3 separate regions of the Homo sapiens genome follow, and all the other regions are reported to be linked to region 1. The links are microRNA targets in miRTarBase. Many come from high-throughput screens and were not tested one by one. Region 1 holds a microRNA gene; each other region holds the end of a gene's coding sequence. Distances are between the middles of the regions.
What was found. Region 1 holds the annotated microRNA hsa-miR-2682-3p (CGCCUCUUCAGCGCUGUCUUCC, at 2,795-2,816, shown strand). A microRNA usually pairs through its seed, bases 2 to 8, with sites in the 3' UTR of a target mRNA and lowers its output. Matches are read on the target gene's strand: a 7mer-m8 pairs with bases 2 to 8, a 7mer-A1 pairs with bases 2 to 7 and ends in A, and an 8mer does both.

Region 2: miRTarBase lists C1orf210 as a target of hsa-miR-2682-3p. The part of its 3' UTR that is shown has no 7-base or 8-base seed match.
Region 3: the mRNA of FLYWCH1 is a reported target of hsa-miR-2682-3p. Seed matches in the 3' UTR shown: 7mer-A1 at 2,645-2,651 and 8mer at 2,135-2,142.

The regions. Positions count from the first base shown.
Region 1 is chr1:98,043,939-98,048,086 of GRCh38, reverse strand. It overlaps MIR2682 (microRNA 2682), which reads left to right and starts at 2,736; the gene lies at 2,736-2,845. LOC124904228 reads left to right here and starts at 2,584. Exons shown (of 1, transcript XM_047437906.1): 1 at 2,584-4,148. The coding sequence starts at 2,697. The coding sequence ends at 3,218. It overlaps MIR137HG (MIR137 host gene), which reads left to right. Exons shown (of 5, transcript NR_046105.1): 2 at 1,460-1,568; 3 at 1,691-2,079. It overlaps MIR137 (microRNA 137), which reads left to right and starts at 1,916; the gene lies at 1,916-2,017.
Region 2 is chr1:43,279,292-43,283,291 of GRCh38, reverse strand. C1orf210 (chromosome 1 open reading frame 210) reads left to right here. Exons shown (of 3, transcript NM_182517.3): 2 at 1-40; 3 at 185-1,415. The coding sequence starts at 22. The coding sequence ends at 507. Among named protein-coding and RNA genes, the nearest start is that of C1orf210, 4.3 kb to the left of the region's middle.
Region 3 is chr16:2,948,226-2,952,225 of GRCh38, reverse strand. FLYWCH1 (FLYWCH-type zinc finger 1) reads right to left here. Exons shown (of 10, transcript NM_001308068.2): 10 at 1,018-3,538. The coding sequence ends at 3,499. All of the region lies in intron 2 of FLYWCH1-AS1 (FLYWCH1 antisense RNA 1), which reads left to right. Among named protein-coding and RNA genes, the nearest start is that of FLYWCH1-AS1, 5.9 kb to the left of the region's middle.

The DNA of each region.
Region 1 (4,148 bases):
CCATTTACTAAATCCAAGCCTATCTGTATAGTGTGTTTCTTGTTTTCCTTTTAATATTAGTTGAGATTTAAATAGAAGAGTGCAGAAGCAAATGTACACTTTGCTCATAGACTATTGCATTACTTTCCCTAAGGGCTTTTGTTTCTAGGAGTTCAAGCTGAAGAGAACCTGTCAGCTTTCTGAATTTTTTTTTTGTCTAGCACCAGAGAAAAGCTCCACTTTATACCTATGTTAGGTAACAACAGAAAATAGTGCTTATTTATTTGTTTTATTGGTATCTGTCCTTTTGTAAGTGGTGTACTTAAGAGTTATCTGAAAATAATGTAAAACAGTCTGGTAGTTGGGCTATATTGGTTTTCTTTCTAGTTATTTTAGGTTCAGACATTATATATTAAACATCTATTCATAAAACCTAGAATTCATGTTGATTTTTCCATCTGTAAGTAACATGTCAAGAAAATGATGAGTTGGTGTGCCCGGAGAAGTATTATAATTTTTAAAAAAATAAGAGCAAACACAACCTAAGCACCTTAAATTGCAACCAGGTCAGTTAGAGATGAGTTGTGGTAGTGGGAGAGATTCTGTTATATAATTACTCCTTGATGAAGAGCTATTTGCACTTACATAATTTGGGAAATCATAATGTCTATTGCCATGTTTCCATATTCCCCCCCATTCCCCTTACATGGATGTACTTTCATGTATTTGAGAGTAAAGGGGAAAGCAAATTGAGAACTTTCTAAGGAAGCTACACCATGTCTTGGGTAGTGACGTTGCACTTGTCCATTTTATTTAGTGAACAATAAACCCCCATTATCAGAATATCCACTGCAGGATCTTAAGACAAAGCTTTTCCAGTAAGAGCCATATTGATCATCAAAGAATCACAGAGATTCTCTCTCTGAATGCCAAAATTACAGTCACTTTGCAAATGAGTTTTTATTGGCTTTTTCTTCTTAAAATAATATTTATGAACACAGAGCTTCAAAGGTTTTTCTGTAGAGGTGTCCACAACAGCTGTACAGCAATGCATTTATAGTATATATTTTAAAAGTGTGCTATGAAATTAAACATTGTAGTGATATAAAATGATGCTTAAATCATAGAAAGTCTACCAGCTTGTCAACTCAGTGAGTTTTGACACTATGGAAAATGGGTTTAATTACTGTGTGCCTTCAAGCTTTTTTTTTTCTTTAAAAATCATTATGTTGTATAGCTATAAGGCCTTCAAAGGAAAGACGCCTATTTTTGTACATCTATAAGTATTTGATTTCAAGTAGTAAATTGAATGAGTGTTTATTTTCCATGATCTTGGGCTTGAGAAAAGTGCATTTCCAAAACACACTACTGAAAATTTCACCCATGCATGACCTATCTTTATTTAAGCCTCACTTCTTCCCAAAGCCGTCTAGGCAAATATATTTGTATTTGTGTGGGTAACTATTCACGTCTCTTACAGGGTTCTCTGGCCGCCATGGCACTCAATCATACCACCTAGAGTGGACTGGCCGAGACCAGACTGGGTACCAAGCAGAGAAGTGCAGAGGAAAGCACTGGGAGAGCACCAGGTAAACTGAAGGTTACTTGTCACTCCCACTTGTGCCCAAAAAGCCTTGCCACATCTTCCCTCCTCACTGGAAAGACAGCACTCTTCTGTGTTAAGTATTTGATTTTGTGATTTGTCTTTCAGAATTGGAAATAGAGCGGCCATTTGGATTTGGGCAGGAAGCAGCCGAGCACAGCTTTGGATCCTTCTTTAGGGAAATCGAGTTATGGATTTATGGTCCCGGTCAAGCTCAGCCCATCCCCAGGCAGGGGCGGGCTCAGCGAGCAGCAAGAGTTCTGGTGGCGGCGGCGGCGGCAGTAGCAGCGGCAGCGGTAGCAGCGGCAGCGGTAGCAGCGGCAGCGGCAGCTTGGTCCTCTGACTCTCTTCGGTGACGGGTATTCTTGGGTGGATAATACGGATTACGTTGTTATTGCTTAAGAATACGCGTAGTCGAGGAGAGTACCAGCGGCAGGGGGGCAGCGGCCGCCCTCCCCAGCCCACCAGCTGGCCACTAAACGCCCGTGGTTGCCAAGGTAGCACTTTCTTGTTCTTTTCATTTCCTCGGGTGTTTTCGCACTGGTTCCACCGGAAAGGCTGTGCGCTGCGCCTCTGGTGACCAGGACTGGAAAATGGGTTCGCGCAGGGGGCGGGGGGCGAGGTGAAGGGGATGGGCGGGGAGCGGAAGGGGGTCCGTTTCCCCGAGCCTGCGGGGCGGTTCGGCGTTCCCAGTCCGCTCCTCTCCTCTCCACGGTGGGGTGCGGCTGGAGGGAGAGACGCGGACGGGGCGATTTTCTAAAGTTGGGAACGACTGAAAGGCCTTGAGCAGTTTGGGAGCGTCGCGAGTGAGGCGCCGAAGCTGGGCAGAGGGTCGCTGGGGGCTGCCTCCGCAGAAAGGGCGTGTCCGTGGGCGAAGGTGCCCCCGCAAGCCTGCGGAAGCGCGTGACTTCGCGAATCCCGAGCCCGGGGCGGTGCCGGAGCCCCACCCCCGGCCGGCCGCGCTGCTCCGCAACCAGACTTGGCGGCCGAGATGGGGAGGGGGCGGGGGCCCGGGGGCTGGGTCCCCGCGGAACTTCCAGATCGGAAGTGTGGCGGGTCTCTCAGGAACGCATATTTTCTTTTCGGATTCTCCGAGAAGGGGTGGAGAAACAGGATGGGAACCGGATTGGTTGCAGTGTGGCACAGACCTGGAACCTTCCTGAAAGAGGTTGGGGCAGGCAGTGACTGTTCAGACGTCCAATCTCTTTGGGACGCCTCTTCAGCGCTGTCTTCCCTGCCTCTGCCTTTAGGACGAGTCTCAAACACCAACAAACGCAAGGCACGTCCCCCCTCTCAGGTCAGCTGCGAAGGCGTGGGAGCAAGAGAGAGCCTCTCCCTCCTTCTACTTAGAGTTTTTGTTTGTTTGTTTGTTTGTTTGTTTCAAATATTAATGGACGATAAAACAACACGGATTTGTCACCTCCTAGCGAAGAGGAAGCCACCGCCACCACACCCCTCAAGCATGCCTGGGCACTCCTGGGGACAATCGGACGTGGCAGGAGTTGGCATGCCCAAGATGAAGCTGGGAAGGATGACCCAGAGTGGAAGGCGTGGGCTGGGGCTCCAGGTCTCAGCTCTCGCCAGCGTCGGACCACACAGCTTTGCCAGCTTTGCACCTTGCCTTTCCTTCTTGTGAGGCATCTGGGACCGTCCTATCAAGGCGCTTCAAAGGTGGAAGGACAGAGTGCTGGGGACAAGAACGTACCAGGCGCCCAGAAGATTCCACTAGCGCGGCCAAACACTAAGACCAGGTTTCCTCCCTGCGTGGTGGTCGTTGGTTGTGCACGGGCTACGCACGAAGACTGAATTCCTGAGAAATGGAAACTGCAGGAGAAAAATCAAATAAACTTAGAGGCCTGTGAAGCTCTCCCTCTTGTCGCTCTGGGACCGCTCTAAGCTGAGCTACATCTCAGATACCTTCTCCCCCTGGAGGATGGGCCTTTCTCAGGCACGAAGTGCGTGTGCCCCACTGGGCTCTTGCCCACAAGAGCAGTCTGAACCCTGGAGAGGCTGACACCGAGGTGTCTTGAAGGAAGCAGGCACACTCTCATGCTTCCCCACCTAGGGTTTCGCCTTTCTTCTAATATTTAGGATTCCCAGTGAAGGGTACTCCACACACACCCTCTGCCTACCCCTAATCCCACCCCATTGTGTCTGATCCCACAATTACTCCCAGGGTATCTATACTCACAGCTTTTGCGCTCAAAGAACATTGTCGTCTGCAGGGAACGGGTGGAGCCCTTCTCAGAAGCTCCCGGGGGCGAGTCCATTTTAAGAATGAGTTGAAGTAGGAAAGAAAACACAGATGCTGTCTTTGCATTCGACATTCTATCACCAGCAAGAGAATATGTAACTCCTGTTCTTTCCTTCATTATTCCATGAATTACCTTTTTTCTCTAGGGATCTACCAGTTGGTGATTTAGGGCTTTTAAATATTATGCTTGTTATGTATTTAACAAAATGCAATATGTCTACTGGTGGCATTGTTTCCTTGGGAAATTAGAAAAGTAGAAGCTACATACTCTAGTTCCTAGGTGGTCTCTGGAAAGTTGGCCTCATGCTGGTT
Region 2 (4,000 bases), 55 Mb from region 1:
CTGGTGTCATCAGGCCCCTCCATGAATGAGACAAACAAAAGTGAGTGACAGTGGGAGGATGATGGGGGTGGGGGGCTTCCCCTTAGATGCTGGGGTTGGGGGAAGGACCCTACCTGCACTGCTCTTGGTTTCTCCAGGGAGCCCCCTCTGGGGCCCACCTATAATGCTGTCCCTTTCTCTGCAGCACTTGTTGGGCCTTCGGAGCTCCCCACAGCGTCTGCTGTGGCCCCTGGCCCAGGCACTGGGGCTCGGGCATGGCCTGTGCTGGTAGGATTTGTGCTGGGGGCTGTGGTCCTCTCGCTCCTCATTGCACTTGCTGCCAAATGCCACCTCTGCCGCCGATACCATGCCAGCTACCGGCACCGCCCACTGCCTGAGACAGGAAGGGGAGGCCGCCCACAGGTGGCTGAAGATGAGGATGATGATGGCTTCATCGAGGACAATTACATTCAGCCTGGGACTGGCGAGCTGGGGACAGAGGGTAGCAGGGACCACTTCTCCCTCTGAGCTCCCATCTTTAGACCCTCCCCACTCCCTCCATGCCTGACAGCTTAAGGACAGTGGTTATGACATGGGGGCCTTGAACCTCAGGGACAGAGGTGGCTGGGGCTTAAAGGTTGGCCAGGGATGGAGTAAACCCCACTTCCCTGACACTAGCCAGCAAAGTGACAATGACCCTCTCTTGCTCAATAACTCTCAACTGTTCCCTGCTGTTCTCAGGATAAAGCCAAACAAAGGCTTGAGTGTGGACATAAGGCCCTCTGTGATCATGCCTCTCGGCCTCTTGGTTTCTTTTCTTGCCTTCCCCTACTTTACTGTCGAAATCAATGTTATTCTCCCTCCCACCACTTCCCATGCAGTTTCCCCAGGCACCTTTGCTCACATTGGTCCCCCTGCCTACGCTACTCTTCTCCTAAATCCTCTATGACTGTGATGGCCTGCCTACCTGCCAGCATTTCAAATATGCCCAGATGGTAACATTTGTGCAGGTGAAAACCAGTGCCAAGCTTCCTTTTTTTTTTTTTCCTGAGACGGAGTCTCACTCTGTTGCCCAGGCTGGAGTGCAATGGCACATCTTGGCTCACTGCAACCTCCGCCTCCTGGGTTCAAGCGATTCTCCTGCTTCAGCCTCCTGAGTAGCTGGGATTACAGGCATCCGCCACCACGCCCAGCTAATTTTTATATTTTTAGTAGAGACGAGGTTTCGCCATATTGGCCAGGATGGTCTCGAACTCTTGACCTCAGGTAGTCCGCCTTCCTCGGCCTCCCAAAGTGCTGGGATTACAGGCGTGAGCCACCATGCCCGGCCAGCTTCTTAATGAAATATTTTCCTATAAATAAAGTGGGTAATCCGGTTATAATATGTTTTTCACAGGAATTAATAAATCTATTTTCATTTTGAATAAAAATAAAAAGCTGTCACTCATTTTTATTTTTCTTGAGCTGGGCTTTATCACTCAGAGCTAGAAGACACTGCTCAGATGCTCCCCCCTCCAAGACACCTTCCATGAGCCCTTCTCTAGTACTGTCCTGCCCACATTTTGTTTTCATCTTTTTGTTTGTTTTCAGGCGGAGTCTTGCTCTTGTTGCCCAGGCTGGAGTGCAATGGCGCAATCTCAGCTCACTGCAAACTCCGCCTCCCGGGTTCAAACAATTCTCCTACCTCAGCCTCCTGAGCAGCTGGGATTACAGGCACCCACCACCACCACACCCAGCTAATTTTTGTATTTTTAGTAGAGATGGGGTTTTGCCATACTGGCCAGGCTGGTCTCAAACTGCTGACCTCAGGTGATCCACCCTCCTCAGCCTCCCAAAGTGCTAGGATTACAGGTGTGAGCCACCACACCTGGCCATCTTTTTTTTTTTTTTTTTTTTTTTTTTTTGACACAGGGTCTCTCTCTGTCACCCAAGCTGCAGTATGGTGGGGCTATCACAGCTCACTTTAGCCTCGATCTCCTGTGCTTAAGTGATCCTCCCATCTCAGCCTCCCAAGTAGCTGGGAATACATGCATGTGCCACTGCGCATGGCTAATTATTTTTTGTAGAGATGGGGTCTCACTGTATCACCCAGGCTTGTCTCGAACTCCTAGACTTTAGTGATCCTCCCACCTCTGCCTCCCAAAGTGCTGGGATTTACAGGCTTATTTTAATCTTTATGACGGTTCGTACTTGCCTCTTACTATGCCTGCCCCCATAGCTAAACTGGGAGCTCCCTGAGGCCCCAGATTGTGTCTTATTGTGTATCCTCAGATTCTTGCACAAGGGAGCTAGTTTTAAGATGGAAAAGACTTGAGTTAAGCTGTTTTTAATTGCAAGCAATAGAAAGGAGTTTGGGGGAGAGTCCTGGCTGTTGCATAGAATCAAAGGGACAGCAGGAAGCAGGCGGTCCCAGCAGCCAGAGGTCAGGCATTTCACCCCTAGCATCCTGTCGTTTAGGGGCACTGATGGGACTCTCTATAACCAGGACTTCCAAACTCTCAGTTCCAAGTTTCAAGTGCTCAGAAAAGAGAATCAATTTGGCCCAGTTTGGGTCAAGTATACATAGGCTTAAAGCACAATCTGCTATGAGTGGGGGGCATGGTTTGGGGAGCCCATCTGTTTGTTCCAGATCATTCTCAGACAAGGGGCAGTTCTCATGAGCCAGGCAGCCACCCCCATGTGTTCCCCAAGTACAGTGTCAGCCTTTGAGGAATGAGCTGGTACAGAAGGAAAGTGAGGCATTGGCAAATGTAGTGAGGTGCTTGGGAAAGAGGCAGGAGATTGAAGAGGACTTGAGTGTCGTATCTGAGGGGTGCCCATGGCAGTGAGGAAGCCCAAGAGTGGATCTGTTAGGGCCTTGGATGCCAAGCTCACACTTCAACCTGAGAGCAATGGAAGCTCATCTGTGGACTTTTTTTGTGCAAGGGCATGACATAATCATGATAGAAAAGTCATTCTGGCTGCTGTGCAGAGATGGATTGGAGGGGAGACACCGAGAGAAGGTAATAAGACCTGTCTAAGGTGTGACATAGGAACAGACTTTGAGACAAGAGGGAGGAAGAGCTGATAGGACCTGTTGACTTTGGATATGGGGAGTAGGTAGGTATCAGAAAAACGCACCCTGGCTTCTGGCTTGGTTACTGGGTACATTGACGAAGAGCAGGTTGGGGCAATGGGGATTCAATGTTGGATACAGGATTTCCAGGGGAGATGCCTCGGGGCTGCTGGGTTCACAGGGAGAAGTCTAGTCTGCAGACACGGGCTTGGGAACACTTGGCACCAGGGTCATTGAGAGCAGGAATGGATGAGATCGCCAGAGAGGAGCGGAGCGGGAAACACATCTCAAGACTGTCAGCGGACCAAGCCCTGGCAGGGGAGTTGGAGGAAGCAGAGAGGAGGGAAGCCCAGCTCACATGACCCCCAACCTGGCCATGGTTCCTGAGTCCAGAGATGGTCTGCCCCTCACAGGCCTGGGGAGAGCAGAGGCTGCCCCAGCCTGAGACCCTGGAGGAGGACCCCAGAGGCTGACCTAAGGGGCATGTCCTGGCCTACCAGGAAAAGCTGCTGCCCAGGCAGCTGAGCCTGCCCCCTGCCCCTGGGCTCCTTCAATTCCCACCACAGAGGAGCTGCCCTGCGTGCAGTTCTATGCTTGGCTGTCCCTGTTCTCCTGTACTCTTTGGGGCCTCAGTCAGAACCTCTGATGGACCCAGGAGAAGAAGGTAAGGGCCTGATCCCAGACTCGCAGTTGATTTTGCTGAGCCTGTGCCCCACAGGGTGCCCGAGCTGGGGCTTCCCCTCAGAACCAGCTGTGGGTGGCAAGCCTGGCTGAGGAGGGCCCTGTAGTCACAAGAACCTTGGACCCTGTCCTTCAAGGCCTTGATTCCTTGGAGGAATTTCTTCCCACTGTGGTTTGCATGCCTGACCCCAAGTGCAAAGAGGGAGCATGACCTGAGCCCACAGCCGCAAAGGGCTGGGGGTGTTGGGAGCTTGGGATTCAGCCAGGCCCTCTCTGGTTTGGCGT
Region 3 (4,000 bases), not on the chromosome of region 1:
AGGAGAGGAAATGCTAATGGGGAAGCGGCTGCCTTTCAGGGTGATGATAATGTTCTGGAATGAGATAGTTGTGATGGATGCACAACCCTAGGAACTTACTAAAAGCCATTGATGGTCCGGGCTCTATGGCTCACACCTGTTATCCCAGCACTTTGGGAGGCCAAGGCGGGTGGATTACGAGGTCAATAGATCAAGACCATCCTGGCCGACACAGTGAAACCCGGTCTCTACTAAGAATACAAAAATTAGCTGGACATGGTGGCGTGCGCCTGTAGTCCCAGCTACTCGGGAGGCTGAGGCAGGTGAATCGCTTGAACCAGGGAGGTGGAGGTTGCAGTGAGCTGAGATCACGCCATCGCGTTCCAGCCTGGGCGACACAGCGAGACTCCATCTTAAAAAATAAATAAATAAATAAAAGACAAAGGCAGGTGGCAGGCCCTGATGACTGATGGGACACAGGACAGGCAGGGCAGCGAGGATGACTGTCTCACTCATTTGTGGTCTCCTCCCTCAGACAAGAGGATGGAGGACAATCCCCTCTGCCACCTGTGCTGCATGGTGCTTATGGGAGATGCCGGGCAGGGCCCAGGAGGCAGCTGGACATGACGTCCAGGTCTCATTTGCAGAAGGGAGGGCTGACAAACCGTGAACCCCAAAAGTGGCAGAGCAGAAGAGGGCTGAGGTCCAGCCCCCAAATCACCAACCCCCACTCCAAGGTTGGGCTGGATCAAGGCGCTCACGAAGGGGGCTGGGAGGGGAAGCCAGAAGAGCTGGCACTGGAGGGGACCTGGGAGGGCGGTCAGTGCCCACGGCCAGCTCAGAGACACACCTGCTGGCCTGAGCGACAGGGGTCCTGTGCCACTCTGTCTTGGCAGAGGAGGTGGGACAGGAGGCTAGGCTGGGACCACTGGGGAATGGGGCCCACCTTATGACTGTGGGTCAGGTCCCGGGGGGCCAGGGGCTCCCGGAACTGGCCACTGCCCCACCCCCATTTTCAAACTTAGAGTTCTTAGTTGATACGTTTCTGATGCCTTGGGGATTTATTTTAAATTTCATGAGATGTTGTTGGCACTGTCATGTCAAAGGGCACGGACACACACCATGTGGTGCAAATGTCATACAGCAGGGTTTGTGGGCGAAGCACCAGCAGAGGCAGGGCTGGAAGCAGGAGCTGCCCCGCTGAGCTGCTGCCGGGCTGCACGCTCCGCGGCCAGCGTTCACCCGCACGCTTTAACTCTGTGACAGTGACTGGGCAGGCGACATCTGGTGGCCCTGGAACTTTGCAAGGGGAAGGCTCTGAAGCTCACTTAGTGGCTGTCAGGCCCTTGTCATGGCTGAGTGGCCACCAGGGTGCGGGTTGGTGGCCATGAAGCCACCCAAGGCAACAGCATCATCTAAATTCACGTCCATTGGAGAATCTCAGCCCAGCAACGCGAGCTGCCGTCTGTCTTCTAAGGTCAAAGCAGGCGTGAGGCAGAGGAAGAGTGGGCCAGTCCCGGTCAATGACGCAAATATCCAAAAGGGAAGAGAAGCCGATATTCTTCCTCTGATTCGCCTCATACCCGCTTAGGGGTGCCCAGAGCAGGGCATGGCATCATGTGACCATGGCGGGAAGATGCTGGCCGTGGAGGCCCCATCACAGAGGCAAGGAGCCCACAGGTGGAGGGCGCAGGCTTGGCAGGTAGCAGAGGCTGCAGTGACTCAGGCTGCTGTGACCCGGGCGTTTCTCTCGTATCTTGGGCATGTGGAGAGCTTCCCCTTCTGCAGGGGGCCTGATCAGAGGTCCAGCTGGTGGCGGCATGAACTGGACCATCTTTCAGCAAGTACCTTCCTCGGGCATGGCTGCCTCCTGTGGGCGTACACATTTGGACCACACAGTGGGAGTCGGGATTGGAGTACTGGGTCTGTAGCCTTGGCCATGAGTCCAGCTGGGGGCAGTTAGGTCAGCCTCGGGGCAGGATGCTTCAGGGCCGAGAACAGTGCCCAAAGCGCAGCCACTGTGTTGTGTGTCCTCTGCCATAGGCAAAGGATGGACGGGTGGGCAAGTCTGCCCTTGGCCCAGGGGTGCCACTTGCCCAGGCTTATGCAGATGAGTCTAGGCGTAACGCAGGCTAATGGCGAGAACAGAGCATCCTGCCTCTTCCAGCAACACGACGCAAATGTCCTGCCATATCCGGGCCTGGGAGAGGCCACAGGCTGCAGCTGGCCCCCCAGCAGCCCTTCCAGAGGCCCCAACCCCAGGTGTCTCCGTCCACTCTTGGTCCAGGTTACGTCTGGGCCAGGTGACTGTAACAGCCCAGGCATGGGGAGGGGTCTCCCCCTGGGCACTGGCATGGAGATGTGACGGAGTGTGGTTTCACGGCGGCCAACTGTTGCTGCAAGAGGGATGTGAACAAGTACCAGCTCCACACGGTGAGATGGAAAATAGGATTTATTGGGGGAACCGTACAAGCAGAGGAGAAGCAGGGGTGCCCAGGCTGTCACAGCCTTGCAGTGCATGGTGGGTTCCGTGGCCAACTTGCCAGGGGACAGGCCTGTTGCTGGCACTCCCCCCACAATTACAGGGTGGGAGTGAAGGACCTCGCGGCTGCGGACAGGTCCTTGTTAGTAAGGAGGAGGCTCTGCAGTCCCGGTGGGGTCATCTTGCCTCTCCGGACTGCTCCCTCTGACTGGTGAAGCCACACTCTGTGAAGCTGTCTGACAGAAGGGGACACGCCTTTGCTGCCCAGGATGGACCTGGGCCACCCAGGATGCCGCTGGCCTCAGCCAGGGCACGTGTGCCCAGCGCTGGCTCCTGCTGACCCCTGGACTGGCTCCCATCTCGGGAATGACGCCTGCCGTGGGAATCGTGGAGAGGGGGTTTAATTTAACTTGGAAGGAGCACAGAAAGGAAAGTGTGGAGTGCGGAGCGAGGCCTCTGGTTTGGCCAGCTCCGGTTGCTGGGGATGGCCACACCCTGGCAGCAGGCGGCCAGAGACCAGGAAGGCCTACCCAGCACCTGTCCAGAAGAGATTGGTGTGGGTTGACCTGGCCTATGCGGGGCAGCTCAGTTTGAAGCAGGAACTTCCCCAAACGTGCCCAGGCTCCAAGACAGCAGCATTCACTTTGCACCGTGCTGAGCAGAGCGGGGCCTCGCCAGGTGGAAAGCCCTAGGAAGGCTGCGTGCTCTGCAAACCCAGGGGTGCTGTGGCCGTACAGCAGGGGCGTCCGTGTCCAGGCAGCTTTGTCATGTCTTCCAAAGGTCAGGAAGGCGCCACCGCCCTGCCCCACGACAGCTGCGTCTGCAAGCGCCAGCTCTGAGCACTGTTCTCCGCCGACATGAGGACACCATCCAAGAATTCCTCCTGGGAGACCTCCTGAGGAGACGCGAAGACCATCGATGCTTTGGAAGAATGAAAAGAAGTTTCTGCTAAGCCAAACCTAGGTGGATGGGAAGTGCCTGTGTGGATGTGAAGCCACCTTGGGTGGGCGGCTCGGAGCTCCTCTGCCCACATCGCCTCACTGGGACTCGCCATCCAGTCTGACGTCTTTGATGTCCCTAATTACAAAGAGACACATGTTCATTGCACACATCAAAACATGGTGGAAATAGATAACACAGAAAGTTCAGGATTCCTGGAATCCTTTTTCCTGGGGATGCCACAGTCTAGAACATTTATTTTTGAGACGGAATCTTGCTCTGTCACCCAGGCTGGAGTGCAGTGGTGCGATCTCGGCTCACTGCACCCCCCGCCTCCTGGGTTCAAGTGATTCTCCCACCTCAGCCTCCTGAGTAGCTGGGACTACAGGTGCATGCCATCATGCTCAGCTAATTTTTTTTTTGTATTTTATTAGAGACGGGGTTTCACCATGTTGGCCAGGATGGTCTCGATCTCCTGACCTCAGGTGATCCACCCACCTCCGCCTACCAAAGTGCTGGGATTACAGGCATGAGCCACCTCACCTGGCTGATCATTTTTACACACACATCCATCCATCCGTATCAATTCCTTTACAACAT